Regions from separate parts of the Homo sapiens genome. Here region 1 is linked to region 2. The links come from fine-mapping of genetic effects on gene expression. Tissue or cell type: subcutaneous fat. Region 2 holds a variant in brackets; the other region holds the start of a gene. All regions are shown on one strand. Distances are from middle to middle. Region 1 holds the start of SLC17A9 (solute carrier family 17 member 9). Region 2 overlaps FLJ16779 (a long non-coding RNA gene).

Region 1 (2,803 bases), 310 kb before region 2:
ATGATCACAGATCTCGGTAGGAAATCACCATCACAGAGTGAATGGAAGCGAATCACCTCAAAGAGGGTGCTGTTGACAGCGATACGTTTAGCAACAGTTTCCAAACTTCCTGGCTATGGGCTAGGGCTGTTTGGGGCAATAAACCTCTCTCTGCCACCATCTTTTCACCTACCCTACGTCAGGATGGATGAAAGTATGACCTTGCTTTTCAGGGTGCCCGTGTCTTTCTGTTCAGAGGGCCCTGGGAGCAGGCCCTGCAGTGCAGTGGGTTGGGCTGTTGGAGACCTGAGGGCTAGGGGGAGGGAGGGGGTAAATGTGGGTCTGTTCTAAGTGCAAGGCCCTGCCTTAGACGTGTCTCCCTCGGCCCCTGGGTGGTGGCTGCTGCGTGGAGGATGGACTGAGGTGGGCCCTAGTGGAGGTGGGGGCAACGCCTGAGGAGCAGGCCCTGCCGCCTCCTGGGGAAAGGCTGCATGGTTGAGGCCTTCCCCTGCTGGCTTCATCCTTGGCATGGCAGCAGGAGCACACAGAGTGGGGGCCCCACCCCGTCACCCCTGCCCCCGAGCCCAGAACCTGGCCTGTGATGGGTCCTCAGGACACCTTTTGTCCAGGAACCCAGGGGCCAATGACAACCTTCACAGGCATCTGCTGAGAAGACATGGGCCAGCGCTGGATTTGTCCAGCTCTCCCAGGCTTGGTCCAAGGGCTCAGGAGTGGACCCATCCCTGCCCCGAAAGATCCATTTTAAAAATCAGTGACCCTGTACTTTTACTCTCTTTGCACTTGGTTAAGACTTTATCCCTGATTTTATTTGATCGGTAAGGCAGGGACTGCCATCATTCCCCATTTTATAGACAGAGGACAGACGGCCCCATGGCTCCGTGTCGTGTCCAAGGGATGGGCTGGCACCTCTTGGACCAGGCTTACCACCAGGGCCCTTCTCTGAAGCCCCAGTCTGACCGGCCTGCTGCTGGGAATCCCCCTCTGCCCCCACACTAACCTCTGCTGGGGCTGAGCCAGGGCGCGTCGGACAGTCAGGGCGACCCAGCCAGGGCGACCGTTGGCCCCGCTCCTATGGGGCAGCAGGGACCGACGTCAGCAGGGTGGGGCGGGCACCCGAGTGGTATGCCCCGCCCTGCCCCGCCTGCCCGCCCTGGTGGCCGTCTGGGGGCGACAAGTCCTGAGAGAACCAGACGGAAGCGCGCTGGGACTGACACGTGGACTTGGGCGGTGCTGCCCGGGTGGGTCAGCCTGGGCTGGGAGGCAGCCCCGGGACACAGCTGTGCCCACGCCGTCTGAGCACCCCAAGCCCGATGCAGCCACCCCCAGACGAGGCCCGCAGGGACATGGCCGGGGACACCCAGTGGTCCAGGTGTGGCGGGGGTGAGGGGAGGGGGGGTGGGAGCGGTGGAGATGGGGCCGTGGGGAGGGAGCTGAGATACTGCCACGTGGGACGATGCTAGGTGGGGAGGGCTGAGCTGGGCGGGCTCCTCTGGCTGTGGGGCCCCCTGTGTTCCTTGTGGGAGGTGGAAGGAAGTGAGTGCCCTGTCCTTCCTCCCTGCCATGAGATTCCAGGACCGGACCTGGCAAGTGCCCTATCCCAGCCAGTGTTCCTGGGGCTCTTCCAGGCAGGGCTATGTTCCCCAGGCCAGGGGCATTGTCCTGGACAGTCAGGAGGCATACCCCTCGCCAGGTGGAACCACCCTGTGTATGCATGACCCTGACAAGCAGGCGCCAGGACAGTCAGGAGGCCAGGTAGGGGGCACGGGCTGGAGCCTGCAGCTGGACGGGGTTGGGGGGGGTCCTGCCACCACGTGCCAGCTGTGTGCTGAGGACGAGCTCCCCGCTGGCTTCAGCTCTCGGAGCATTTGGTGGTGGGGAGAAGCAGGGCCTGGGCAGGTCGCCTGGCCACCAGCACTGCTGCCTGTAGGAGGCTCCCTGGGCAGGTGACGCCTCAGAAACCGGGCGAGATGGTGACCGCGGGCCATTGGTCAGCTGGGGAGGGCCTCTGCCAGGGAGCTCCTGAGAGCAGCCCCCACACTGCTGAACCCCTTGGCTCTGGGTCTTGGGCTGAGGCCTTAAGTGGCTGGACCCTGGGCCTAGACTCAGGCCCTGTGGGTTCCAGAGCAGTCTCCTGCCTGCACTGAGTCCCCAGGGTACCTACCCTGACCATGGCAAGGTAATGGCACCTTCTGGCCCCACCAGTTCCCAGCTGTATGAGGGCTGAGGACCCTAGAAGTGCTGGGAAGAGTTGTAGGAAGGCCCAAAGGGGCAGTGCCACCATCGGATGTTGGCACCCAGATGAAGGGAGCGCTGGCTGCATGGGAAAAGCTGGCAGCCCAGATCACAGCCCTGTCAGGCGCCAATTAGAGGGGAGGGCTGCCCTCAGCGGGCCCTGCCCCTTGCTCTCTTCCTCTTCCCCCACCCACGTTCATCCAGGCCTGCCGGGCAGGGCCAGCTCCCCAGGGATTCAGGGCCTCCTCACTGGCGGCTGGTTTGAGTGGCTCCGCCTTCACTACGTCCCTCCCAGGCTCGATGTTTAAAAAGGAGCCCTTGCCGCAGCCTTCACTACGTCCCTCCCAGGCTCGATGTTTAAAAAGGAGCCCTTGCCGCAGCCTTCACTACGTCCCTCCCAGGCTCGATGTTTAAAAAGGAGCCCTTGCCACAGCTCTTCAACTTCCTTTGCAGGCCCTTATTGGGTAGCGCCAAGGATTCTGGAGGGGCCTGTGGGTCAAGGCTGCCACACGCACGCCTTTTCCTAGCCCGCCCTCCTGCAGCCACATCACAAAGGCTGGGCCAGGCGAGA
Region 2 (2,991 bases):
ACAGTGATGGACAGTGGAGGACAGTGATGGACAGCGGAGGACAGTGATGGCGAGCGGAGGACAGTGATGGAGAGCGGAGGACAGTGATGGACAGCGGAGGACAGTGATGGCGAGCGGAGGACAGTGATGGACAGCGGAGGACAGTGATGGACAGCGGAGGACAGTGATGGACAGCGGAGGACAGTGATGGAGAACGGAGGACAGTGATGGACAGCGGAGGACAGTGATGGACAGAGGAGGACAGTGATGGAGAGTGGAGGACAGTGATGGACAGCGGAGGACAGTGATGGACAGTGGAGGACAGTGATGGAGAACGGAGGACAGCGATGGACAGCGGAGGACAGCGATGGACAGCGGATGACAGTGGAGGACAGCGGATGACAGTGGAGGACAGTGGAGGACAGCGATGGACAGTGGAGGACAGTGATGGACAGCGGAGGACAGTGATGGACAGTAATGGACAGTGATGGACAGCGGAGGACAGTGATGGACAGCGGAGGACAGCGATGGACAGTGGAGGACAGTGATGGACAGTGGAGGACAGTGATGGACAGAGGAGGACAGTGAAAGACAGAGAAGGACAGCAATGGAAGGACAGCCACCCCAGTCAGCACAAACGCAGGCCGAGTGGGGCCCATGCATTCCTGGGAGGACTGGCAAGCTGGGAAAGGCCTCCAGGGCAGGGAAACTCAGGAGAGTGACAGCTTGTTCAGGCCAGGACCTTGTGCATCTTCTCCTTTTTTCTTTCTTAGTAAACCCAGTGTATTCATTTTTAGCGGCTGCCATAACAAATTCCCATAAACTAGCGGCTTGAAGCCACGGAAGTTTATTACGTCACAGTTGTGGAGGCTAGACATCTAACATCCAGGTATGGGCAGGGTTGCACTGCCTTCGAAGCTCTGGGGAGGGTCCTTCCTGCCCCTCCCAGCTCCTGTGGCTCCCAGCGTCCTTAGCCTGTGGGCGTTATCGCTCTGGTCTTTGCCTCCACCTTTGCGTGACCTCCTCCTCTCCTGTGTGTCACTTGCTATGATGCTTGTGATGCCATTTAGGGCCCACCTATGTAATCCAGCATGCTCTCATGTCAAGATCCCTAATCACATCTGCAAAGAACCTTGCCCCAAACTCCTGGCTTCAAGCAATTCTCCTGCCTTGGCCTCCCAACATGCTGGGTTTGCAGGTGTGAGCCACTGTGCCAGGCCTAGATTTGGGGGCCACCATTCAGTCGCTGCTCTCCCACACCTGCAGCAGCCCCAGCCCGCCCGCAGGGCAGACCTTCCTTGTGGCAGAGACAACAGGAAAAGGAAAGGAAGAGGAACCCAGGCCTGGGTTCCCGGCAGAGCTGTCCGCAGAGCCTGTGCGGGGCTGCAAAG[G/T]CCCCTCTGTTGTCACAACACCCCTGTCCCCGTTTCAGATGAAACCGGGAGAACTTTCAACTGCAACAAACACTCCTGGAAAAGGAGAGGCCAATCCCCATGGCTCCACAGAGAGCACAGCCAGACCCCTTCATCCAGGCCCACAGGCAATGTTGTCGACTCTGTTCTTCCTTTGAAAAAAAAGGGTGCTGGTTGGTTTCCAGTTTACTGCAGACACACAGAGAGGCCCCTCTCTGGCTCAGAGCCTGGCCCGGGTCTCTCCAGTCCCAGCTTCTCCCTCCCGAAAGGAACGTCCTGCCCAACAATGCAACACGTGTGTGCACTCCCAGTGTGGGAATCAGGCTGAGCTGGACTTCAGGGGCAGCCCAGGATGCTTGCCTCGGGTGGGGCGTTTTCCCAGAGGTTTCTTGGGAGCTGCCTGGGAGTTGCCGCAGCTTCTTCCCAGCTGGCTTCAGCCCAGGCTTCCTGGGTGAGATTCTTGTTCCCTGGCCCCTCACGGTACGCGTGGTCCTGTTCCCCGCAATCCCCCACCCCCTTGAACTCCGTTCCCACACTCAGGACCCACCCAGATGCCAGCTCCCCGCAGAGCAGTGCAGCCCCCCACTTCCAGCCCTGACGGCACACACCCTGCCCCCCACCACCATTTTGGAATTGTTCTTCGCCAGAAATACCGTTTCCCACCCTGTCTTCTTATTCTCGGAGGCAGAGGCACTTCAGCTTCCTGGGCCGTCTGTCACTGAGTCACCCTGGTTTCCATTGGCAGTGCCGCCTCTCCCTCACTCGGATGCTTCTGTGCAGCCACACGGGCTGTGTGTGCAACCTCAGGGGACGCATCAACCACGTCCTCGGGCTGGCCGTAGAGACATGGCCTCCGCCTGAGTGTGGCCGTCAGACTCTCCCTGGTACTATAAGCCCTCGGCTGAGGGGGCAGAGGGGCAGCTAGGATCATGGCCGCAGCTCCCAGAGGGGAGCCCCCATCCTCCAGGCCGTCTTACCGAGCCTGCTCCCCAGCCTGCGCCTTTCCTGACTTCCCTCCAGGCTCCTGTTGCTGGCGACCACAGAACCAGCCTCAGGGCTTTCCTGTCCTTCCTGTCAGGGGTCCTTTCCCAGTGGGAGCTCTGGGCGGGTGGGCCTGTCCCAGGAGAGTCACGTAGCTTGTTTAAGGAGAAGATCCCCATGGCTCTTGTGTGCACATGTGGGGCCTCTCTCCCCAGGGGCTGCTGTGAGCCTGGGAAGTCCCAGGTGGTGTCTCATGCCCCAGAGAGTAGCCCCCTGTGCACCTCGCACACGCCCTCCTGCGGGTCTGCTGACTTTCTCCTCTGCCTCAGCCAAGTCTCCCACGCGGAGCAGGTGGGAACTGAATGAAGGCCTCACAGGATTCTGAGTCCCCGGTCTGACACCCACCTGGCTCAGCACCTGCCTCCTCAGCTTCCAGTTGCACGGGTGGCCGCAGGCGTCAGGGTGTGACGGCGAGCGTGGCCAGTCCGGTCAGAGGTCTCTGCATCCTCCACACCTCTGGCCAGGTGAGACCCAGCCTGTGTCTCTCCCAGCTCTACTGACGGACGGCAGGAAGCTGAGACCCCGAGCCCGTGTGTCCTCGGTTCTTGGTGCTTTGCAATGC

What was found. PIP is the estimated chance that this variant, and not a neighbour inherited with it, causes the effect.
Region 1: it holds the start of SLC17A9, and the variant in region 2 is the best candidate, but not a certain one, in a credible set for the expression of SLC17A9 in subcutaneous fat (GTEx, PIP 0.50).

What each region holds. Positions count from the first base shown.
Region 1 is chr20:62,951,521-62,954,323 of GRCh38, forward strand. It overlaps SLC17A9 (solute carrier family 17 member 9), which reads left to right and starts at 1,189. Exons shown (of 13, transcript NM_022082.4): 1 at 1,189-1,369. The coding sequence starts at 1,311. RefSeq lists an enhancer at 599-1,428 and silencers at 980-1,299, 1,310-1,409.
Region 2 is chr20:63,257,351-63,260,341 of GRCh38, forward strand. FLJ16779 (a long non-coding RNA gene) reads left to right here. Exons shown (of 1, transcript NR_024389.1): 1 at 1-2,991. Among named protein-coding and RNA genes, the nearest start is that of NKAIN4, 4.4 kb to the left of the region's middle. RefSeq lists enhancers at 806-1,423, 2,659-2,991. The variant G/T (reference allele first, on the strand shown) is at 1,371.